Linked DNA regions of Homo sapiens. The protein of the gene in region 1 purifies or fractionates together with the protein of each later gene. This does not show direct contact. Each region holds a gene or a part of one and is shown in the gene's direction. Other genes may lie near its edges.

Region 1 (3,500 bases):
TCCAGCTAATTTTTGAACTTTTAGTAGAGACAAGGTTTCATGATGGCCAGGCTGGTCTCAAACTCCTGACCTCAGGTGATCCACCTGCCTCAGCCTCCCAAAGTGCTGGGATTATAGGCATTAGCCACCGCGCCTGGCCTGGAATGCACCTTTTTCTATAGTGAACAGCAATAAATAAAAATGGACACCAAGTTGTGTGGCATTTCCCTCTGTGTCAGCACTTTGTTTTTCTGACCTTTATTAATTCATTTTCAGCTCATACTAACATTCCAAGATGAGTAAGGCAAGTATTGTTTAGGGTTTCTTTGTAGTAAGAAAATAGATAGAAAACATCAGTGGCTTGTCTGAAGTGACATGCTCATCAGGACAGAACGGGGCCTAAACCAGGTTCCCTGTCACCCACAAATATTGTCCTCCTGGCTGGGCACGGTGGCTCATGCCTGTAATCCCAGCACTTTGGGAGGCCAAGGCAGGTGGATCACGAGGTCAAGAGATCGAGACCATCCTGGTCAACATGGTAAGACCCTGTCTCTACTAAAAATACAAAAATTAGCTGGGCGTGGTGGCACACACCTGTAGTACCAGCTACTCGGGAGGCTGAGGCAGGAGAATTCCTGGAACCCAGGAGGTGGAGGTTGCAGTGAGGTGAGATCGTGCCATTGCATTCCATCATGGTGAGAGAGCGAGACTCCATCTTAAAAAAAAAAAAAAAAAAATTGTCCTCCCATATTCTACCACAGCCCAAGGCTAGTTCCTTCACAAGACAGTGGTCGTGGTCCCTTATTCTAGCCACTGCACCTCTGCCCTTAAAGCACTGACTTTCTGGGGCCCTGAACCCTCTAAATCACTCAGCTCCAAGCAGAAGAAAAAAACCGAAGTACCAGACAAATTTTGTTCTGAATGCTCAACTATTACAAGGCAAGAAAATAGGGGATTTATCCCCTTGGAAAAAGAATTTGCAAAATCAAACATTAAAGAGGATTCTGAGATTTGGCACTAAAATTGTACCCGAGAATGCAGGGCCATGCGCTGAGGACATTGGCTGAGTGGCCAGGAGTTAGTGCTGCTGGGGACACTGGGTAGTAGCCTTGTTTTCCTCCGATGCAGTCATAGAAATCACATCAGACTGTGATGATTTGCAGGGTTTATGAACCTTCTTTGATTTTTGCTTTTTAAGAATTGAGCTATTTCTGACCTTATTGAATGACCTTTTGAGAACTAATGTTACGTGAACCTGACCCTCTTTTTCTTTAACCAGGTGGTGACTATATTTTCTGCTTCTAATTATTATGAAGAAGGCAGCAATCGAGGAGCTTACATCAAACTATGTTCTGGTACAACTCCTCGATTTTTCCAGTACCAAGTAACTAAAGCAACGTGCTTTCAGCCTCTTCGCCAAAGGTGTGTATACTATACCGAGAGTGCTGAGCACTGGTATCACGGACCCATTAGAACCAGTCCCACGTGACTAAGAGCAGCCACGTGAGTGAAGAGAGTCATTTATAGCTTACTCATTAGTATCAACAAAATGTAAATAGTTCCAGACACCAAGTGGTGAATGCACCCATATTTGAAACCAAAAAGAGCAATTTTAAATTCATACATCTTTTTAGATGGATAAAGCAGTCAGCCCTCAGAAACGTAACTGAATGTAAAGAAAAGAAGATCCCCACACCCACTCAGTCCCCCAACCTACAACCTTCTCTGACCCACAAACAGCTCTATCTGGTCTTGCCCCTTTCTCTTCTCTATCCAGAAGTGTATGTGACAAATAGTTGAGTGTCTCTCTCCATGTGATGGCATTTGTAGCTTATACTCCTTTTCTCCCTTTAACATTATCTTTCTAAGTGTTTTTTTTGGTTTTTTTTTTGTTTGTTTTTTTTCATTTGTTTTTTGTTTTTTTGAGACGGAGTCTCGCTCTGCAGCCCAGGCTGGAGTGCAGTGGCGTGATCTCAGCTCCCTGCAACCTCTGCCTCCCAGGTTCAAGCTGTTCTCCTGCCTCAGCCTCCTGAGTAGCTGAGATTACAAGGGCCCGCCACAACACCTGGCTAACATTTTATATTTTTGGTAGAGACGGGGTTTCACCATGTTGGCCAGGCTGGTCTTGAACTCCTGACCTCATGTGATCTGCCTGCCTTGACCTCCCAAAGTACTGGGATTACAGGCATGAGCCACTGCGCCCGGTCTAAGATTTTTTACATTATAGAACTAACATGTTTGTTGTTAACAACTGAAAAAAAGCAAAGAAGAATAAAGAAATTGTTAACAACTTCTCTCCTTTCTCAATTATCCTTTTCCCCAGAGGTAACTAAAACTGGCAGTTTAGAATGGCCCCTTCCACCCTCTTCTTGCTCTTACAAAAATAGTCAAGCATTTATTCAGTCATTGAATTAAAAAAAACCTTTGAGTACCTGCCATGTGTCAGATACTATTCTAGGCATACATAATATAAGATAGGCTGAAGTCCCCTCATCAAACACATATCTCAGTGTGAAGAGAAAGACGATAAACAATGTACATACTTTTTTTTTTAAAGAAGGAGTCTTGCTCTGTTGCCCAGGCTGGAGTGCAGTGGCACGATCTTGGCTCACTGCAACCTCCACCTACTGGGTTCAAGTGATTCTCCTGTCTCAGCCTCCCGAGTAGCTGGGACTACGGGCATGCCCCACCACGCTGGGCTAATTTTTGTATTTTTAGTAGAGACGGGGTTTCACCTTGTTGGCCAAGCTGGTATTGAACTCCTGACCTCAGGTGATTTGCCCGCCTCGGCCTCCCAAAGTGCTGAGATTACAGGTGTGAGCTACCACGCCCAGCCTGTACGTACATTTTTTTTTTTTTTTTGAGACGGAGTCTTGCTCTGTTGCCAGGCTGGAGTGCAGTGGTGCGATCTCAGCTCACTGCAACCTCTGCCTCTTGGGTTCAAGCAATTCTCCTGCCTCAGCCTCCCAAGTAGCTGGGACTACAGGTGCACGCCACCACACCCAGCTAATTTTTGTTTTTTTAGTAGAGAGGGGGTTTCACCATGTTGGCTAGGATGGTCTCGATCTCTTGACCTTGTGATCCGCCCGCCTCAGCTTCCCAAAGTGCTGGGATTACAGTAGTGAGCCACCACGCCCGGCCGTACGTATATTTTTTAAAGAAAGAATCACACTGCATACTGTATTCTGCAACTGAATTTTTCCCCTAAAAATTTTATCATGAACATCACCGCAAGTTAGTAAAGATAGACCTAACTCATTCTTTTTAGTACATACATATTATTCTGTAGTATACATGTACCATAACAGTTATGGAGCAACTAAATCTTATCCAATTGATAGACATCCAGATTGGTTCCAGGATTCTGCATTTAAAAACAATGCTATAACTAGCATTCCTATATATAAGGAACTCATACGACTCAACAGCAAAAAAAAAAAAACCAAGTAATCCAATTTAAAAAATAGGCAAAGGACCTGAATAGACATTTTCCCAAAGACATACAAATGGCCAACAGGTAT
Region 2 (3,500 bases), on another chromosome or scaffold:
CGCAGCAATTTCAGCAGTGGCCCCGGCTTCCCAGAGTATGGCTACCCTGCCGACACCGTCTGGCCTGCCATGGAGCAAGGTGTGTGCTCAGCAGGACAGAGGGATACCGGCTAACCCCACTGGGGCGGCCACCCAGCCTGGCATCTGAACACGGGAGTCAGGGCTGGGATTGGAATTGTGATGTCCTGGCCTGGCTCTGACCCAATCCGTCCTTCCGAGAAGCAGGGTGTGTCAGGACGGGCCGATGCTGTCTCTTCGATTGCAGTTTGGTTTAAGGCCTGAGAGCTGCCCTGCCTGCCCCGACATGCGTTTTAAAGTGTGACTCTGAGGACAGCTCATATCCAGGCTCTGGGCAGCCCCTGATCACATCCCCATCGCAGACCCCGTGGCTCAGCAGGCGTGCAGGAGGGAGCTGCTCATTCCCCTTGGAGACTCCGCTCCTGCAGTTGTCCCGCGTGTCAGTCAGAGTTCCCTTCCAGGATGCTCAAATGCTTTTTCTTGGCAAATTGCAGAAATATACGTAAAGATATAAAGTTACAGAATTTAATGGTAGGCTGAGTTTTTTTGTTTGTTTGTTTTTTGGTTTTTTTGAGATGGAGTCTCACTCTGTCTCCCAGGCTGGAGTGCAGTGATGTGATCTTGGCTCACTGCAACTTCTGCATCTCGGGTTCAAACGATTCTCCTGCCTCAGCCTCCTGAGTAGTTGAGATTACAGGTGTTTGCCACCATGCACAGCTAATTTTTGTATTTTTAGTAGAGATGGGGTTTTGCCATGTTGGCCAGGCTGGTCTCAAACTCCTGACCTCAAGTGATCCATCCTCCTCGGTCTCCCAAAATGCTTGGATTAGAGTGTGAGTCACTGTGCCCGGCCTTACTTTCTTAAAGTATTGTTTCAGTTAACATTTTTTCATTTCTTTTTTTTTAAGAGACAGAGTCTCACTCTGTCACCCAGGCTGGAGTGCAGTGGCACGGTCATGGTCTCTGTCTCCTGGGTTCAGGTGGCCCTCCTGCCTTGGATCCTTTCAAAGTGCTGGGATTACAGGCATGCACCACTATGCCTGGCTCCTTATTTTCTTTTTTGCTTGAGGTGTTTTGCTGTCCTTTTTGCTGGGTGCTGTGTGGTCATCGCAGTCTGAATTTGATTTTGTGAAAATGGAAGAGCTCGGGAGTGGGCCAGGCCTGGGAGGATTACGCACCGTGGCAGGAGCCTCAGGGCGGCTCATGAGGGTGTTGCGGGAGCTTTCTCAGTGTACAAGGGAACAGCTTTCATGCTTAATGATTCAGACATTTTTCTTTTCCTGACGTATGCTGAAGTTCTACTTTTAAGTATGATATTAAACAATTACCGACTTTTGAGTTGGAAGTCTGTCGTGATAAATCTAACCTGTGATTTAAGCTGTGTGAGCACATTGAAAATCTAGGCTCAGAAGCATCAGTGACAAGCTGATTGTTTCTTTTTCAATTTATTTTAAATGCAGTTTCATCAAGACCAACTTCTCCTGAAAAATTTTCAGTGCCTCATGTCTGTGCCAGGTTTGGCCCTGGCGGTCAGCTTATCAAAGTGATTCCCAATCTGCCTTCAGAAGGACAGCCGGCCTTGGTGGAGGTCCACAGCATGGAGGTAATGGCACACGCAGAAGCGTGGCGTCACTGCTCTGCTGCCCTGGGGAACTCTCTGCTTTGCAGTTTGTCATCTTCAATTGTCAGACCTTGTCTCTGGACATACGTCCTTGGAAAATGTTTATTCCTGTGAATTTTCAATTTGTAGGGTTTTTCTTCTATTTGATCATATATTTTTCCTCCTAGAAGTCAGTATTGTAAGCGTCTGCCTTGGGTGTTCAACGTGGTTTGATTGTATATGCATTTTCTGTCCTCGTTTTGGGGATGTTTGCTTTATTGGTGCTTTTCAATGATAGATGCAGTGGGTGGGCCCGGTGCTGCCCAGGTGAGGGGGGCGGGTGGGGTGGACGTGCACGGCGCTGCCGAGGTGACGGGGGCTGGCATGCGCCTCTTCCTGCAGCTTCTGCAGGCTTCTGTCACATGTATTGGGGTTCTGCCTCAGTATTTGGGGAGAGAAAATGGATTTCACTACTTAAAATAAAGTTTGAAATCATGGCTGTGGTCCACACAGGCCATGTTCCATGTAACAGCCTCGACAGAGCCTTCACCTGCTGTGGGGCGGGGCAGGTGGGCCATGCCATCCTCTCCTCTCACGGGCAGCATCCGTGCCTGGGTTGGCCGGCCTGCCAGCAGGGTGGCTGCGCACTGGCTGCCACTGACCCACGGCCCTCTCCTCGTAGGCCTTGCTGCAGCACACGTCTGAGCAGGAGGAGATGCGGGCGTTCCCGGGACCCCTGGCCAAGTATGTTCCTTGTTGAGGCATTTCTTTGTGAGCCCGGCCTTGCAGACATCACTGCTCACTGTGTGTTCTTTCTGCAGAGACGACACCCATAAGGTGGATGTCATTAATTTTGCACAGAACAAAGCTATGAAATGTTTGCAGAATGAAAACTTAATTGACAAAGAGTCTGCAAGTCTTCTTTGGAATTTTATTGTTCTCTTATGCAGACAAAATGGGGTATGTTTCTTTCTACTTCTAGAGTGTTTCTTCTTGCTGGTCTTCATTTCGTCTTGGGAATGCTCAGCCTCCCGAAGGAGCAGGGCGGGATCCGCGTGGCCAGCTATGGGAGCCTCGAGGGCCCCCTTAGGAAGCACACTGTAGTGGCTGGGTAGGGAGGGAGAGGGAACGTGCGGTTGGGATGGGATGAGGTTTCAGCCCAGCCTTGCCAGCCTTTCGGGTAGTTGTGGGTCTGGCTGTGTCCAGGGTGGGGCTTTGTGCCTGTGGTGGTCCAACGCGTCCTCACCTGAGAGCCGTTGTTCTCCTTCCTGTTCCTGTTGACCCAAACAGACCGTGGTAGGGACCGACATTGCGGAGCTTCTGTTACGAGACCACAGAACAGTGTGGCTTCCTGGGAAGTCGCCCAATGAAGCAAACCTGATTGATTTCACGAATGAGGCAGTGGAGCAGGTGGAAGAGGAGGAGTCTGGTGAGGCCCAGCTCTCTTTCCTCACTGGTGGTCCGGCGGCTGCCGCCAGCTCGCTCGAGAGAGAGACCGAGAGGTTCAGGGAGCTGTTGCTGTATGGCCGTAAGAAGGTGCGCCTCCTCATCATGGCACCTGGCGCCTGCACATGTCCACTGGGTCGGGCCTGGTGCGGGGTTGCAGCCTTCAGGGAGGGACGTGGCCCCCTCTTGGGAGCATCCGCGCTGCAGTGTGGGGCTTCGGGTCTTGCTGTTTCCTGAACAATGCCTGACTCTTGTATGCCATCCTTCTGGAGGTGTTAATGTTGGTTTCCTTCTAACTGTTTCCAGTGTTGGAGACCTGCAGATTAAATTTTCAGTTATTCGATAAATGCACATGTTGAGCACAGGCCGTGCCCCTGCTGTGTGTGCCAAATCTCGGATGAAATGTGCATGACACAAGTTGTGGCATTCTCACAAA
Region 3 (3,500 bases), on another chromosome or scaffold:
ATAGCATTTATGACATTTAGGAAGGTAGAAAGGAAAGTCAGTTTAAAGGGAAGAGTGACAAAAGGCATACTATATTTCCTTTTTCAGGAAATTTTTCTTTTCTTTTTTCTTTTCTGTAGACTGTGCAACTTACATCATCTGAATTGGAGTCCACACTTGAAACACTAAAAGCTGAAAATCAACCTATAAGAGATGTCCTAAAGCAACTCATATTAGTGCTTTGTTCAGAAGAGGTAACATTTGTTTTAATATTTAAATATTATTAAGGCAAAAAATTCTTGGTAACAATAAGAAAAACCAAATATAATATTTATGATTTTTACAATTGATCGTTATATGTCAGGCTTGTAAAGAATGCAATTAAATGAAAGGTTAACTAATTTCAGCTACACCTTGAATGGCATGTTTTCTGGTTGCTGTAGTTTGTTTACGATAATCTGCAAAGTGAATGATAGTAACAGCTGTGATAGGTTTATCATACATGCCAAATGTCCTTTCAAGCCATGGCTCCGGTCTCTTATATCTAGATTGTCAAGCAACTGATACACGCAGTAGTCATTTGCAAGTCAAATATTACTAGGTTGTTAATGCAGGGATTGAAATTCCATTTTCCTGCTGGAAAAAAGCTCTTTCTGAGATAAAGGGTCCCTTGCCTTTTTTCAGCGGGCATCCAGCTGTACTTTGTGTTCATTTTAGTGTATGTCTGCAATTTGTGGGATATCACTAGACTATTTTTCACTTTCTAGTTCAATATAATTGAGCCATAAACTTGTAGTTTTAGGGAAAAAATATCATGACTAACTTTATGATTATAATCTGCTACTGTTAAATTCTAAAATATTTCTTCATATTACTTGGATACTAAACTAGACTGAGAAACTTTTCAATGATACATATTTCTGCATCCTGAAATTAGACTGTGATTAGGATTTGATTTGGGAATTACTTAATCTGGAAGTCTTTTTTAAATAATACCATACACAAAGCCTAAAACATCAAATTTGGCATAAATAATGGCCTATTTTATATTACAGATAACACATCTTTTAACCCCTACACGTGTAAGACTTGCCCACTTCTTAGAGGTGAATAAAAATATCAAGGGGCAGAGTCAGGTTGTTAACATGAAACCATTTATTTTTAAAGTACTATTAACTTTTTCTAAACTCTGAACAGTAAAGCTAAAAATGTGACATTTTTACCTTCACACTGATTTCTTCTTTTTCACATCTATGCTGTATTTTAGAATATGCAAAAAGCCCTTGAATTGAAAGCAAAATATGAATCCGACATGGTTACTGGTGGCTATGCAGCTTTAATAAATTTATGCTGTCGACATGATAAAGTAGAAGATGCCTTGAACTTGAAAGAAGAATTGTGAGTACCCTGGCACTGAAACAAGTTGTCAACATTTATTCTGCTCTACAGACCTTGATAGATTATCTAGATGGAATATTACTCTCTTATATAATGTCATTTTTAAAAATTCTTTTGTTGTCAGTGTTTTTGAAATTTCGTATTATACGGCTCTTTAATTAATTGTGGCTTATGTTCAGCAAGGTGTCTTTGTTTAAGTATGATAAGACATTCTAGTCCTTAGAACCAAAGGTTTTTTTCCATTGATTATATATCATCACAACAGTGGTGATGGTGGTAACTGTTTTAAGAGGCTTGATAACATTTCCCTTTCAATATTGTAGTGTAAATAAAATTCTATCCATTTCTCAGGTACCTTTGGCTTCCTATCCTGTTAGATTTTTCAAGTAAAAATGTCAAGTATTCGTGATGAAGGTTAGAATCACTTAAAGCCAAAGAGTTTCTTCATAAGTATCCTTTGCAGATGGAGTGATGCAATATATATGTAGTGTTGGGCTTTTACTTCACTAGTCACTTTGAATATAATTTCGTGTGAACTTGTATATGGCTTCAAAAAGAAATCCTAACTGAAGCGTAGAGGCCAACATTAGTTCAGGTCTTCTGATGAGCTTTTGAAAAGTGATTAAATGGATGTTGCTGTTCTTTTAGCAGTTAATTGACTTTTAAAACAATATAAATGTGGCTTTAATTTTTAGTGACCGCTTAGATTCATCTGCTGTCCTTGACACCGGCAAGTATGTAGGCCTTGTAAGAGTATTGGCAAAGCATGGCAAGCTCCAAGGTAAGCCTCAGCACATAAAGGAAATATGTGATGCAAGTATCTTGCCACTGGAATAACATGTGAATTGATATTAATGGATATCATGTCCTGCAAAGTGCTTGAACACTTTGCATAGAAATTTGCATGTGAATCCAACCAGAGCTACATGGACAGTGTAGGCCATTAGTTTTAATGGATTGGCAAGCTTGTCATTTACATTTGCACAGCTCAGTGCTTTTTGCATTTCTGCAGCTAGTTTTTATTAGCATTGCTGTTTGGATTGAGTTTGAAGATCATGACTTATGGCACAATTTGCTTATGTGCCTGCACTAATGGCTTTGTTTTTGCTTAAGAAGGTCTGAAGGCTGAACGTAAAACCTATAAACGTAAAACCTATAAACATAACCTAATATATGCGCCTGAATTTTGCAGTAGTCTTTGCCTTACTTTTTAATAACATTAACAAAATATATACTTTAAAGTTTTTATTTTAATTAAGGTTTTTATTTAATGGTTCATGGAAAAAGCATAGCTGATTACACAGCTGATTTGCATACTCAAATTTTCTCGTTGAGATAATGCTAAGCCTAATAAAATTAATTACACTTGATAATACATTCATACTATTTTCTTGTTTCTTAACTTTCTGATTTGGCTTTATTTTGAAATTTCCTTTTTAGCCTTCCTCTTTTCCTTTGATTTTCAGAAAAGATTGTTTTAATTTTATTATAGGGAAAAATGTATGGAGAAAATCATTTATTAGAACATTGAATGTTTTCCTAGGACGCCTTTCTAACTCTTTCTAAGGATTAGCCTATTTTTTTAAAATCACTTTTTGTAAAGTGGTCAAAACATTTTGTCTGTGTAATAATTAAGAACAACATTATAAAAATGCACTTATTCCATATCCTAAAATGTTTGTTTCTGCCTTCCTAATGAAGCTTAATGAATCTAATGTATTAACATGCAGTCTTTTGGAAAGCTTTCATTGGCTCTGCTTGGCTAATTAGTATCGACATAGCAAACAGGCCCTATCGGTATCAGACCATTAGTCTGGCTGTATATACAGTGTAAACACATCTTTATTATCTGGCCTCCTGACAAGCCATCTGCTGAAGAAACAATGGTGTGATTTAGCAGATGTTAGCTCTGAACGATAAAAGCATCCATTTAGGAGGATCTTACAGCTATAGGGCAGACCATACAGGGTTATGTGGTACAGAGTGGGCACATAGTCCCTATCTATAATTTGTAGTCAAAGTTGCAGGGAAATGATAAAACCATGCTATTGTGGATTTATAATTGTAGTCTCGTTTAGAAATGCAAGTAGTAATTAACTTGAAATCGGCATTATACACTAGAA
Region 4 (3,500 bases), on another chromosome or scaffold:
AACCCCCATCTCCACTTTGCAGAGCTAACCACTGCTACCAAAGATACTCTGCTCACACAGAAGCACAGGACTCTTACCCACACATACCTTTTTAAAAATACTTCATTAAATACTTTCGTTACTCTACTCTTAGATGAACTTGAATGTCATGTTATATTAAGTATCAAGTTATATTAAAAACTTCCTTTTTCAAAAGTGGCAGAATACAACATTGAGTCTTCCCATCCAAGACAATTGTAAAGCCTCTTCCTGTCTCAGGCTCTGTTTTGGTGACATGCTCAAGTCTTATAGTAGATTTTAAGACACTCATGAATGGGATGTGTATGTACCTTGATTTAGTAGTGCTTAAATACTTGTTGAAGGAATGATAGCTTTAGGCTGAGCTAGCTCTACTTTTGTGATGTTATTTGTACTTACTTGATGTTCAATCCCTACACTCTTGTTTTTTCTGTCAGAAAATATGGTCTACTTTGCCGGGCGTGGTGGCTCACGCTTGTAATTCTAGCACTTTGGGAGGCCAAGGCAGGGAGATCACTTGAGGTCAGGAGTTTGAGACCAGCCTGACCAACATGGAGAAACCCCATCTCTACTAAAAACACAAAATTAGCCGGGCGTGGTGGCACGTGCCTGGAATACCAGCTACTCAGGAGGCTGAGGCAGGAGAATCGCTTGAACCTGGGAGGTGGAGGTTGCGATGAGCCAAGATCTCACCATTGCACTCCAGCCTGAGCAACAAGAGTGAAACTCCGTCTCAAAAACAAACAAACAAACAAACAAAAAAAAAAACAGAAAATATAGTATATTTTATTGTATTTTCTAGGAACAGAAAGCTGAAAAAGTGAGTCTTGTCTCTATTGGTAAAAGTATACCTTAAATACATTCATACACACACTCCTAATTAGCATATTTTTGATTAAATGAGAATGTGCTTTGACTTTAATTCATTATGTTCCTTCAACAGAGAAATTGGACTTGACATTTCATTCTTTCAATTACCCCCTCTTACAGGATATTAATGCACACGCCTGTGTTACTGGTAAACCCATCAGCCAAGGGGGAATCCATGGACGCATCTCTGCTACTGGCCGTGGTGTCTTCCATGGGATTGAAAATTTCATCAATGAAGCTTCTTACATGAGCATTTTAGGAATGACACCAGGGTTTGGAGATAAAACATTTGTTGTTCAGGTAAAAACAAAAACAAAAAAAGTTTCCTTAATAACTGATAGACATTAAGTAAAGTTTTCAATGTTTTTAGAATTGTAATTTTAAAATTAAGTTATCTCAAATCTCTTAAATTTTAGAGTGGTGGTTTTCAGAGTAATAGATATTTTGTTTTTTGAACCTTGGTATGATTCATGTAACTAGAACTGATTTAAGTATCTCTCAAGTACATGTGAAACTGTTACCAACTTCAACCAAACTATCACCAAATTCAACCAAAATATTGGTTAGTATTCAAACTTGAAATTATAGCTAGAAGGGCAAGTCTCTTAACATAATTTTCTAAGTTTTGTAAGTATATAGAAAGGTTTACACACTGACCCAAATTTGTTTCATGTGTTAACATGTATTTTACTTAGGAGAATCTTAATTAAGTTGAAATTACTTGAAAATAGAAGTGGTGGCTGGACACAGTGGCTCATGCCTGTATTCCCAGCACTTTGGGAGGCCAAGACGGGTGGATCACTTGAGGCCAGGAGTTCGAGACCAGCCTGGCCAACATGGTGAAACCCTGTCTCTACTAAAAGTAGAAAAATTAAGCCGGGCGTGGTGGCTCACGCCTGTAATCCCATCACTTTGGGAGGCCAAGGTGGGCAGATCACGAGGTCAAGAGATCAAGACCATCCTGGCCAACATGGTGAAACCCGGTCTCCGCTAAAAATAGGAAAATTAGCAGGGTGTGGTGGTACACGCCTGTAGTCCCAGCTACTCTGGAGGCTGACGCAGGAGAATCACTTGAACCCGGGAGGTGGAGCTTGCAGTGAGCCGAGATTGCGCCACTGCACTCCAGCCTGGGTGACAGAGCCAGACTCTGTCTCAAAAAAAAAGAAAGAAAAATTAGCTGGGCATGATGGCGGCACCTGTAATCCCAACTACTCAGGAGACTAAGGCAGGAGACTCACTTGAACCCGGGAGGCAGAGGCTGCAGTGAGCCAAGATTGTGCCATTGCACTCCAGCCTGTGTGAGAGAATGAGACTCGGTCTCAAAAAAAAAAAAAAATTGTATTTCTCCAAATTAGTGACATCCCTTTTCACAACATAGGACATCTGATCATCAAGGACTGAGGACCTGGTGGTGTACTTAACACCACTGCCATTTATTGATTGATTGAGATGGAGTCTCACCCTATTGCCCAGGCTGGAGTGCAGTCTCGGCTCACTGCAACCTCCACCTCCCAGGTTCAAGTGATTCTCCTACCTCATTCTCCCAAGTAGCTGGGATTACAGGCACGGACCCCATGCCTAATTTTTGTATTTTTAGTAGAGACGGGGTTTCACCATGTTGGCCATGGCTGATCTCGAACTCCTGACCTCAAGTGATCCACCTGCCTCAGCCTCCCAAAGTGCTGGAATTACAAGCGTGAGCCACCATGCCCGCTCATCACATTCTTAAACAGAGAATTTTATTGTTGAAGAGAAACCAGTTAGTACATTGTTTCTTTTGGCAAAAGAATTTTGAGAATTGCTTCTAAATAAACAGAGTATGGATTTACATTGGTCAAAATATGACTCTTGCTGTCTATACCAGGACTTTAATTTTTGTGTTATGGGTAATTGTTCTTCACAGGGATTTGGTAATGTGGGCCTACACTCTATGAGATATTTACATCGTTTTGGTGCTAAATGTATTGCTGTTGGTGAGTCTGATGGGAGTATATGGAATCCAGATGGTATTGACCCAAAGGAACTGGAAGACTTCAAATTGGTATTAATACATTTTTATAGCATAGACACTAAATATAAATATTTAAAACTCTGGTGCAGCTATTAATTGTGATTTTCAATCAATGGCAGCAACATGGGTCCATTCTGGGCTTCCCCAAGGCAAAGCCCTATGAAGGAAGCATCTTGGAGGCCGACTGTGACATACTGATCCCAGCTGCCAGTGAGAAGCAGTTGACCAAATCCAACGCACCCAGAGTCAAAGCCAAGGTGACAACATTATAGAAACCAGAACCAACATTATCAATGTGAATGACGTTAGGGGGGTCATAGAAGAGTCTGATTGAGTTTTCTCTTTCTTTTTAGCAGCTTTATTGGCACATACTGCACATACCATACAGTTCCCCCATTTAAGGTACATAATTTAATGGCTTTTAGCTACCGGCACAGAGTTGTGCAACCATTACCAAAACAAACGCATCTGCCTGACACTCCTGTAAAAAAAAAAAACAAGCAAACAAAAAAAAAACCTAGATAAATAGAAAAGTGAAAGGTAGTTTTATACACTTGGCAGAGAAAAATAACCTCTATTTAACTTTAACTGAAACTGTGCT
Region 5 (3,182 bases), on another chromosome or scaffold:
GGCATTGATACAAAATACGCTGTGTTCAAGCTATGGAGCCTGCCACTGTAGTTACTAGAGTTACGGTTCAAAGCTATTTCTGAGAGAAAGCCACTTCATCCTCAAAACCCAAGAGGCCCACTTAAAGTGATGCGAATTCTCATTTCAGGTTTTTAAATTATACTAAAAGATTCTAGTAAGAAAATTTTAATATGTATGTATTGGTGTTCTTTTTACATTTCATTTAATGAAATGTCTACTGTCAATACGATAAAGCAGAACCCAGTGGAGTAAGAATACACGAAACTGCCAGGCACAGTGGGTCATGCCTGTAAACCCAGCATTCTGGGAGGCCGAGGCGGGTGGATCACCTGAGGTCGGGAGTTCAAGACCAGCCTGACCAACATGGAGAAACCCTGTCTCTACTAAAAATACAAAATTAGCTGCGGTGGTGGTGCGTGCCTGTAATCCCAGCTACTCAGGAGGCTGAGGCAGGAGAATCGCTTGAACCCGGGAGGCGGAGGTTGTGGTGAGCCAAGATTGCGCCATTGCACTCCAGCCTGGGCAACAACAGCGAAACTCTGTCTCAAAAAAAAAAAATATATATATATATATATATATATGAAGCTGATAGTTGAATTATGTTGATTCAGGGACAAGATAGCATTGCATAGTAACTTCCAGTAGGATCAAATATTTTGAGAGTGGTTAAAACGCCAAGGAATCCTGATTTTATGAAATTATGCCTTCTGATAGGTGCAACAAAATTGAACAGAAGAGTAACAGCTTAACTAAACCTCCATTGTGTGAAAGTTTTATGAAATGTTTTGACTTTTTTTTTTTTTTCCCTAGAGAACAGGGTTCTTGCTTTGTCGCCCAGGCTGGAGTACAGCCTTGAACTCCTGGGCTCAAGCGATCCTCCTGCCTCAGCCTCCCAGTTAGCTGACACAATTGGGATGTGCCACTACTTGCTCCTGTTTTTTCATAGACGGGTCCTGCTGTTGCTCAGGCTGGTCTCGGATTCCTGGCCTCAAGCAACTTTCCTGCCCCAGCTCCTAAAGCGGCCAGGGTTACAGGTAGCCGCCTTGTCTGTCCCGTTTCGACCATATTTTATTTTTGAGAAGGTCTTGCTCTGTCGCCAGACTGGAGTGCAGTGGCACGATGATAGCTCACTGCAGCCTCGATCTCCCAAGCTCAAGTGATCCTCCCACCTCAGCCTCTTGAATAACTGGGACTGCAAGTGTGGACCACCATGTCTGGCTAATGTTTTTTATTTTTAGCAGAAATGAGGTCTTGCTATGTTGCCAAGGCTAGTCTTGAACTCCTGAGCTCAAGCGAGCCTTCTGCCTTGGCCTTCCAAAGGGCTGGGATTAGAGGGCTGAGCCACCACACTTGGCCAACCATATTTTATTTTTTATATTTTTATTTTATTTGATCCTTGTTCTGAAACCATAAAGTGAGTTTAACATTTCTGGCTGGGCACAGTGGCTCATGCCTGTAATTCTAACACTTTAGGAGACCAAGGCAGGAGGATGCCTTGAGCCCAGGAGTTTGAGACCATCCTGGACAACATAATGAGAAAAGAAAATACAAAAATTAAGGGGTGTGGTGACACATGCCTGTAGTCTCAACTATTTGGGAGGCTGAGGCAGGAGGATTGCTTGAGCCCGAGAGGTTGAGGCTACAGTGAGCCATGTTTACGCCATTGCAGTCCAGCCTGGGCGACAGAGTGAAACCCTGTCTCAAAAAAAAAGTAACATTTCTATATGATTTTTGGGATCGACATGTCCATAATGTTAATGAAGCGCATAGCAGTCACTAGTAAATTAGGAGTTATACATTGCTTCTATAGCATCAGAAATTGTATATCAGGCCAGGTGCAAAAGCTCACTCCTGAAATCCAAGCACTTTGGGAGGCTGAGGTGGGCGGATTGCTTGAGGTCAGGAGTTCAAGAACAGCCTGGCCAACATGATGAAACCCCAGGTCTCTACTAAAAATACAAAAATTGGTCAGGCATGGTGGTGCATGCCTGTAATTCCAGCTACTCGGGAGGCTGAGGCAGGAGAATTGCTTGAACCCGGGAGGCAGAGGTTGCAGTGAGCCAAGATTGTGCCACTGCACTCCAGCCTGGGCGACAGAGCCAGACTGTCTGAGGAAGAAATTGTATATCAGGCTGGGCACAGTGGCTCATACCCGTAATCCCAGCACTTTGGGAGGCCCAGGCTGGGTATCACTTGAGCCCAGGAGTTGGAGACCAGCCTGGGCAACAAAGTGAGACCCCTCTCTCTACAAAAAATAAATTAGCCAGGCATGGTGGCACGTGCCTGTAATCTCAGCTACTTAGGAAGCTGAAGGAGGATCGTCTGAGCCCAGGAGTTTGAGGCTGCAATGAGCTACAATCACACCCCTGCACTCCGGCCTGGGCGACAGAGTGATAACCTGTCTAAAAAAATAAAAATAAATTGTATAATCATATTGCAATTTTCTTTGCATTACTGATGAGGAAAAATCTCAAAGTAATTGTAAAAAATCCTGGATATCACATAGTTGAGAAACAAAGTTATTTTAAACTTACAGGACTCTGTAGTTCACAGTTGAACACTGTGGCTTCCTGAAATATCAAAGAATAATGTACATTAATAAGCCAGCTACTATCGGCATCTTGTAAAAATTAAAAAATTAAACATAAATAAAAGTTCAAACTATGTGTTGAATCATTTGTCTTTTACAAGCCAGCCCTGACTTCACATTCTCAGAGGTGTTCATAGAAGTGCATGAGATGTTAACCTCACCACTGATAAGGTTTATGAATCTCCTGGTTATTAAGGTGTGACCTGACAAGTTTCCTAGAAAGCAGCTATTCCAGAGTTTTCATGTGTGTTTTTATAGACACTGAAGTGCAGTATGCAATAGTCACTTAATAAGTATTGCTACACTGAATGAAAGAGCCTTGGGGATGTGTCTCTTACACAAGATATAATTCCTACCTAATACTGTGAATAATAATTTGATGTTCAAATCAGCCAGCTTGCTTTGCAGAATCCAGTGTATTGCAAAGTTTGAAGATGGAAAATAATTCATGTGACAGGCCATATCATTATTCCAAGACCCATGATCTTAACACTAGAGGGCTATATTAGTCAAGGTTAAAACTGCTAAATCTCAAGGAAGCATTAACATCTGAAAATATGGTATACCCAAC
Region 6 (3,500 bases), on another chromosome or scaffold:
CGTAATGGGTATTTCTGCTGCCTGAGACTGCATAAGCTGAAGCACTGGCTGGGAAGCAATGTCTTTATAAGGCATCTTTCCCCAGAGGCATGAGGGTGGACAGCACTGAGGGGGTCATGAGTCGGCTTAGAGAAGTGAGGAGTTTTTGTTACTGTGTGTTCTTGATTCAATTTGGAGTTCAGGTATAAATCATCATAGCTCTTAGTTAAAATCTGTCTCAATGAATCCGCTATCCATGAGAGAAAGGTTAACACTGTCTCTGCCACAAGGAAAATATGAAATACTGAGATCTACCCTGCCTATAGCAAAACTAGATCAAGAGCCTACCTAAAGCTGTATACAGGCCAGCTAGGGCCAAAACTGGTGCTTAGGATAAATACAGCATTCCAAGCAGAGCTATAGGAAAATAGGTTTTGTCATTAAAAATAAAGTTTTGGACAGGCACAGTGGCTTATGCCTATAATCCTAGCATTTTGGGAGGCCGAGGCAGAAAGGTTGCTTGAGTCCGGGAATTCGCGACCAGCCAGGGCAACAAAGCCAGACCCCGTCTTTACAAAAAAAATATTAAAAATTAGCCAGGAGTGGTAATACTTGTCAGTAGTCCTAGCTACTTGGGAGGCCGAAGCAGGAGGATTGCTTGAGCCCCAGAGTCCAAGACTGCATTGAGCTATGATTGCATTGCACTCCAGCCTGGGCCACACAGAACAAGGACCTGACTATAAATTAAAAAAAAAAAAAATTGTATCTTCCTGTTTCCCTCCTTATATATATATGTGCATGTTGCTATTAGGCTATTTGAGTCCAGTCACCATTTTTACCTTTTACCCCAAGGAGGGGAGGAGAGCACTTATGTAAGAATCTAGTCTTAAAGTATAAGTTGTCTTGTTATGTTTCTTATTTATGTTACATAGTCCTGAAACCTTGTTTAGAAGAGACACTTTAGTATCTGAGAAAGGCTTGTTTGCCTTACGTTCTCCATCTCAACCTATTATGGCTTTGAGTGTGTGTGTGTGTGTGTGTGTGTGTGTGTGTGTACACAGGATCCCAAAGCCTTATGACTCGTTAAGCTGTCTGACTGAATTTTTGACACTCAATAAAAAATGAAGCTTCAAAATGCTCAACTCTCAAAATAGTACAGTAGTTTTGTTTTTGTTTCTTTAAACTGTGCTTAAAGTATGGAAAGACTGAACAATCTCAAAGGTCAGCAGTAATGATGTTATTCTTAAAGGGGCCCTGTGGGTCTTTTTTATAAAAGCAGTGTCATATCCTTTTTATGTAATCAATATGTTGCAGGAACAATAATTTCTTACCATTAATGTGGTGTCTTTTACTTTTTAAAATATCTTCATGTCTGTTATCTTAATTTGGTTTATACAGGAACGCAGATTGAAAAAGAATTTTATTTTCTGCAGTTAACGCCACATTTTTTCAGCTTAAAAAACTAAATTTCACTTTTCTATATTCTTATATAGAGACTAGATAACTGCTGCTTGTGTAGCTCGATGTCATAACAGATGGGTAGTTCCAAATTCAATTTGGTTGTAATCTAAGGGTTTTTTTTTTTGTATACCTTTGTCAAGTTATTATTGACATAAAGTGAACTGTATGTATTTAAGTGCATAATTGATGAGTTTTGACGTATGTATTTACCAGTGAAACCACCACTGCAATCACGATAATGAGCATATCCATTACCCCCCCAACATTTCCTCATGTCCCTTGGTAATCCTTCTCATTCTCGCCATTCCCCCGTCCCTAGGCAATCACTCATCTGTTTTCTGTGACTCTAAGTTAGTTTGCATTTTCTAGAATTTTACGTAAATGGGGATGAACAATACCTGTCACTCTTGGTAGATTTCTGCGTTGACTGAAAAAAAACAGAATGTGACCTTCAAAGTGGTGGCATTCTATTGCTTGAATCCAAGTGTCCATTATGTGAGGTAGAAGGCCTTTGATTTCTATCTTTTTAATGAGATCCTAATGTTTAATAAAAGTAGCAATAACTGACATTTGTTGAAAGCCAACTATGTGCCAGGCATTGTTCTAAGCACTTAGATATATTTTCTCATTTAAACCTTACAACAATCCTATGAAGCCGGCACCATTGCTAGCTCCATTTTACAGATAAAAGAGACCAAGACACAGGCCAAACAGCTAGAAAATGGTAGAGTTCAAACTCAGGCAGTATGGGACTTGAGAGCCACCACTGCCTTCCAGATGTAACTAGAAAATTCAAGCCTTCTAGTAGCCTTAATACCAATAGTGAAGCATAACAGTGAGTTACATAGTTCAGGAGCCAGAGTTCCATGTGAACTTGGAGCTGACTCTGAGATCTGATGCCTGGAGCTGTAGCCCAAAACTAAATGTCTTTGTACTGCTGCAGTTTTACCTGTGTCATCAATTATTTCTTCCTTGCATGGTTTTATCTTTATTGGAAATTGATTTCCCACCCCACACATTTTCATGTTTTCTGAAAGTCTTTTAAGATTTGACCTAAATTTTTGTTTTCTAGATGATCCAGATCCTGATGATGGATTTAACTATAAACAGATGATGGTTAGAGATGAGCGGAGGTTTAAAATGGCAGACAAGGATGGAGACCTCATTGCCACCAAGGAGGAGTTCACAGCTTTCCTGCACCCTGAGGAGTATGACTACATGAAAGATATAGTAGTACAGGTGGGTGAGATGAAGGATTCTGAACAGGGACTCAGTTTCTCTTTTTGTGGCTTATTCTGTCTTTCCCCTTTAGCCTTATATAGCATATCTTATATATATATATGCTATATAGCATATCACTGTATATGCTATATAAGTATTGGCCAGATTCAGAATCCAAGGTCTGTCACTGTTTTTCTGTGACCTTGATCAAGGTGCCTTGGGCATTCTGTTTAGTATGATAATACCTTCTGTCATATAATGTATTTTGCCATTTCATTGGTAGCTTCATATTGTAAGAATGGGGGGAAATCCCATTATTTAAAATATCCCATGACCAATAGTCAGACATTGAGTAATAACAGTGATACTAAAGAACTCTCACAGAAGGCAGTTACTGACAACATAGACTATCTATAGCTAAACACATAATCACTGGTCACATCTCCTGTTAGTGTGACTTTAGCATGACTAAGGCTACCAGGTAGATCATCATGGGCTTGATGGGATAGTTTGTCATTAAGCAGTGTCAGTGTTCTGTCAGGAAGACTCAGTTATTTTAGATTGAAGCATAGGAAATTGCTCATGTTTTACCATTTCTTGGCTAGAAATGGTTTTAACCATACAGACACACATGCATACATACATACATACATACATACATGTACAAGTGTGTTTAATGAATAATAAATGTTTACCTAAACTAGATACTTTACTTTCTTCTGGCAAATTCAGAGACCAACTTAATAGTCTCTTCTTATTCTTTCCTGTTTAGGAAACAATGGAAGATATAGATAAGAATGCTGATGGTTTCATTGATCTAGAAGAGTATATTGGTAAGT
Region 7 (3,500 bases), on another chromosome or scaffold:
GTTTCACTCCTGTTGCCCAGGCTGGAGTGCAATGGCGCGATCTTGGCTCACTGCAACCTCTGCCCCCCAGGTTCAAGCGATTCTCTTGCTTCAGCCTCCTTACTAGCTGGGATTACAGGCATGTACCACCACATCCGGCTAATTTTGTATTTTTAGTAGAGATGGGGTTTCTCCATGTTGGTCAGGCTGGTCTCTAACTCCTGACCTCAGGTGATCCGCCCGCCTTGGCCTCCCAAAGTGCTGGGATTACAGGCAGGAGCCACCATACCCGGCCCGGCTTATTCACTTTTTAAACAGATTTCATCTATTAAAACACCTCCAGTCTGGGCGTGGTGGCACACGCCTGTAGTCCCAGTTACTTGGGAGGCTGAGGCAGGAGAGTCGCTTGAACCCAGCAGGCGGAGGTTGCAGTGAGCCAAAATCGCACCACTGCACGCCAGTCTGGGCAAGAAGAGCGAAACTCCGTCTCAAAAAACAAAGAAACAAAAAGCCTGCCGGGCACGGTGGCTCACGCCGGTAATCCCAGCACTTTGGGAGGTCGAGGCAGGCGGATCATGAGGTCAGGAGATCGAGACCATCCTGGCTAACACGGCGAAACCCCGTCTCTACTAAAAATATGAAAAAATTAGCCGAGTGTGGTGGCAGGCGCCCGTAGTCCCAGCTACTTGGGAGGCTGAGGCAGGAGAATGGCGTGAACCCGGGAAGTGGAGCTTGCAGTGAGCCAGGATGGCGCCACTGCACTCCAGCCTGGGCGACAGAGCGAGACTCCATCTCAAAAAACAAAAAACCTGCTCTTCCTATCTGTTAAGTGGATGAACTAAAACATCCTTGTTTCTTAAGCAGTTGGTGTCTTGCTATTAAAAAAGGTGCTGTGAATCCAGATCCAAAGTACAAAGTCATCCTAGTTAGTAACCGCCATTTGTTTTCCACTGAAAGTGGCAAATGCTTTCCTGGGCAGCTTAGCCAGTTTCTGCAGCTTAACAGCTGATGCCTAGAAGTTCTTCCCCGACCTTCTTAGATTGATTTGTCATTGGTTCTCAGCAGGGGACACTTTTACTTCCCAGGGGACATTTGGCAATGCCTGGAGACGGGGAGTTCTCTACTGGCATCTAGTGGGTGGAGACCTCCTGAGTTTCTGGTGAATGTCTGGAGTAGGGCTTGAACATCTGTGTTTTCATCAGTCTAATGATGCTGTTGGTCCAGGGAGCGCAGTCTTGAGAACTGCTCCTTAAGTAGATACCCAAGGCTGCAAGATAGAGGGAAAAGAATGTGGGGAGTTGTTAAGCATTAAATGTGACAGAAAAATATGAAAATATGAAAATACCTAGCAAATGGTAAGTGCTCATGTGGCATAAGAGGGGGGAGCTGAATCCCTTTTTAATCATCTCCCAGTCAGGAGTATTATTCCTTTAGTGGTTTACTGAGACCACTCCAGTAGTATAAGCGAGGAGAATCAGCCTCATCCAATACTCTGACATAGTTTAATATTAATTGAATACTGTGGCTTCCTTAGCCATTATTGAAGTGCATTAGGGAACAGCCCTAAAGCTGTAGCCTGTGTATTAGTCTGTTCTCATGCAGCTAATAAAGACATACCTAAGACTGGGTAAATTTTAAAGGAAAGAGGTTTATTTAACTCACAGTTCAGCACGGCTGGGGAGGCCTCAGCGATCGTGGCGGAAGGGGAAGCAAACACATCCTTCTTAACATGGCAGCAGGAAGAATGAGCAAAAGGGTGAGCCCCTCATAAAACTATCAGATCTCATGAGAACTTACTATCGCGAGACCAGCATGGAGGTAACCGCTCCTGTGATTCAGTTACCTCCCATCAGGTCCCTCCCATGACACGTGGGGATTATGGGAACTAAAATTCTAGTTGAGATCTGGGTGGGGACACAGCCAAACCTTATCAGTTTGTTTGTTCCTTCACAGATATAGCCTGGTGGGTCATGTACTCACAGTTTTCTTTTGTTGAGAACATTCCCAGAGTGATTTTCTTTGTTTTTTCCTTTTTAGGAACAAAACATAACCCTTTCATTTGTACTGCCTCCTTCCACACGAGTGCCCCTTTGGCCAAAGAAGATTATTATCAGATATTAGGAGTGCCTCGAAATGCCAGCCAGAAAGAGATCAAGAAAGCCTATTATCAGGTCTGTATGGAAGTCAGGTTTTGGTGACCAAATTGTAGTAGGAATGTTGTTGATCCCATGTGATCCTGATCAGTACAGCGTATGTGCCCATATGAATAGGTCTCATGAGCTGATAGTATAGAAGGGTGTGATAAAGCTGGACTTTGCTAGACTGTTTTTCGATGCACAATGCTGTAGAGGTTGGTGCTTCAGAAAAAAGAGGTGAGTCCAAACCAGAGATTTTAAGAAGTTTTTTTTTCTAGAGCTGTTTTCATAATTAAATTTAATCTGTATTTTCTGAATCAGTAGATATGCTAGTCTAAGTTTTAGGTAGTTATTTTTTGCATCCAGATAAAAGTTTAGAGGTTTAGAATTACTTCCTTTCCTTTCTTTTTTTTTTTTTTTTTTTTTTTTTTTTGAGATGGAGTCTCACTCCATTGCTGAGGCTGGAGTGCAGTGGCGCAATCTTGGCTCACTGCAACCTCTGCCTCCTGGGTTCAAGCAGTTCTCCTGTGTCCGCCTCCCAAGTAGCTGGGACTATAGGCACCTGCCACCACACCCGGCTAATTTTTTTTGTATTTTTAGTAGAGACGCGGTTTCACTTTGTTGGTCAGGCTGGTCTTAAACTCCTGACCTCAGGTGATCCACCTGCCTCAGCCTCCCAAAGTGCTGGGATTACAGGCGTGAGCCACCGCGCCTGGCCCTTTCTTAACCTGGAAAATGTGAAATTCCCATTGTATCCCAGGGTCTATTAGGGTAGTTAGGGTAGCTGAGTAAAGTTGTATACGAGATGTCTACACCACTGGTTCCTAGACCCTTGGTTTGCTCTGACCAACAAAATAAAATCAATATTGGAGGCACCATTGTAGGATTGACAGCTTTTTATAAGTGCACAGTTCACTGGAGTTGTGCACCTGTCACCACAGTCAACTTTAGGACATTTTCATTACCTCGAAAAGAAACTCTGTATTCATTAGCACTCCCCTTCCATTGTCCTCTCTCCCCGGTCCCTAGCAGCTGCTAATCTGCGTCCTGCCTCTTTGGATTTGCCTATTCTCAATATTCATATACAGGGAATCATACAATATGTATCCTTTTGTGTGTCTTGGCTTCTTTCATTCACATAATGTTTTCAGGGTTCATCTGTGTTATAGTTTGTGTCAATACTTCATCCCTTTTTATGGTCAAATAATCTGTTGCATGGATTAATCACATTTTGTTTATTCATCGTTTGATGGACATTTGGATATTTTCCACTTTTTGCTATCATGAACAGTGCTGCTATATAGACATTCATATGTAAGTTTTTGTGTAGACATGTTTTCAGTTCTCTTGGATATTTAGGAGTATAGTTGCTGAGTCATATGGTAA

Evidence for each region.
Region 2: the proteins of PPEF1 (region 1) and SEC16A purify together in Homo sapiens (affinity purification with mass spectrometry; one large-scale study listed by BioGRID and IntAct). This does not show direct contact.
Region 3: the proteins of PPEF1 (region 1) and LRPPRC purify together in Homo sapiens (affinity purification with mass spectrometry; one large-scale study listed by BioGRID and IntAct). This does not show direct contact.
Region 4: the proteins of PPEF1 (region 1) and GLUD1 purify together in Homo sapiens (affinity purification with mass spectrometry; one large-scale study listed by BioGRID and IntAct). This does not show direct contact.
Region 5: the proteins of PPEF1 (region 1) and SLC25A3 purify together in Homo sapiens (affinity purification with mass spectrometry; one large-scale study listed by BioGRID and IntAct). This does not show direct contact.
Region 6: the proteins of PPEF1 (region 1) and CALU purify together in Homo sapiens (affinity purification with mass spectrometry; one large-scale study listed by BioGRID and IntAct). This does not show direct contact.
Region 7: the proteins of PPEF1 (region 1) and DNAJA3 purify together in Homo sapiens (affinity purification with mass spectrometry; one large-scale study listed by BioGRID and IntAct). This does not show direct contact.

The regions. Positions count from the first base shown.
Region 1 is NC_000023.11:18,805,145-18,808,644, forward strand, and holds part of PPEF1 (serine/threonine-protein phosphatase with EF-hands 1), read left to right. Parts: intron 1-1,258; coding exon 1,259-1,401; intron 1,402-3,500. UniProt on the Homo sapiens protein: May have a role in the recovery or adaptation response of photoreceptors. May have a role in development.
Region 2 is NC_000009.12:136,462,541-136,466,040, reverse strand, and holds part of SEC16A (protein transport protein Sec16A), read left to right. Parts: coding exon 1-79; intron 80-1,478; coding exon 1,479-1,621; intron 1,622-2,300; coding exon 2,301-2,362; intron 2,363-2,439; coding exon 2,440-2,578; intron 2,579-2,908; coding exon 2,909-3,154; intron 3,155-3,500. UniProt on the Homo sapiens protein: Acts as a molecular scaffold that plays a key role in the organization of the endoplasmic reticulum exit sites (ERES), also known as transitional endoplasmic reticulum (tER).
Region 3 is NC_000002.12:43,943,990-43,947,489, reverse strand, and holds part of LRPPRC (leucine-rich PPR motif-containing protein, mitochondrial precursor), read left to right. Parts: intron 1-119; coding exon 120-233; intron 234-1,246; coding exon 1,247-1,377; intron 1,378-2,072; coding exon 2,073-2,158; intron 2,159-3,500. UniProt on the Homo sapiens protein: May play a role in RNA metabolism in both nuclei and mitochondria. In the nucleus binds to HNRPA1-associated poly(A) mRNAs and is part of nmRNP complexes at late stages of mRNA maturation which are possibly associated with nuclear mRNA export.
Region 4 is NC_000010.11:87,060,344-87,063,843, reverse strand, and holds part of GLUD1 (glutamate dehydrogenase 1, mitochondrial isoform a precursor), read left to right. Parts: intron 1-1,008; coding exon 1,009-1,188; intron 1,189-2,791; coding exon 2,792-2,929; intron 2,930-3,018; coding exon 3,019-3,156; intron 3,157-3,500. UniProt on the Homo sapiens protein: Mitochondrial glutamate dehydrogenase that catalyzes the conversion of L-glutamate into alpha-ketoglutarate. Plays a key role in glutamine anaplerosis by producing alpha-ketoglutarate, an important intermediate in the tricarboxylic acid cycle.
Region 5 is NC_000012.12:98,603,686-98,606,867, forward strand, and holds the end of SLC25A3 (solute carrier family 25 member 3 isoform b precursor), read left to right. Parts: 3' UTR 1-2,682; downstream 2,683-3,182. UniProt on the Homo sapiens protein: Inorganic ion transporter that transports phosphate or copper ions across the mitochondrial inner membrane into the matrix compartment. Mediates proton-coupled symport of phosphate ions necessary for mitochondrial oxidative phosphorylation of ADP to ATP.
Region 6 is NC_000007.14:128,756,359-128,759,858, forward strand, and holds part of CALU (calumenin isoform a precursor), read left to right. Parts: intron 1-2,512; coding exon 2,513-2,679; intron 2,680-3,433; coding exon 3,434-3,494; intron 3,495-3,500. UniProt on the Homo sapiens protein: Involved in regulation of vitamin K-dependent carboxylation of multiple N-terminal glutamate residues. Seems to inhibit gamma-carboxylase GGCX. Binds 7 calcium ions with a low affinity.
Region 7 is NC_000016.10:4,432,368-4,435,867, forward strand, and holds part of DNAJA3 (dnaJ homolog subfamily A member 3, mitochondrial), read left to right. Parts: intron 1-2,016; coding exon 2,017-2,150; intron 2,151-3,500. UniProt on the Homo sapiens protein: Modulates apoptotic signal transduction or effector structures within the mitochondrial matrix. Affect cytochrome C release from the mitochondria and caspase 3 activation, but not caspase 8 activation.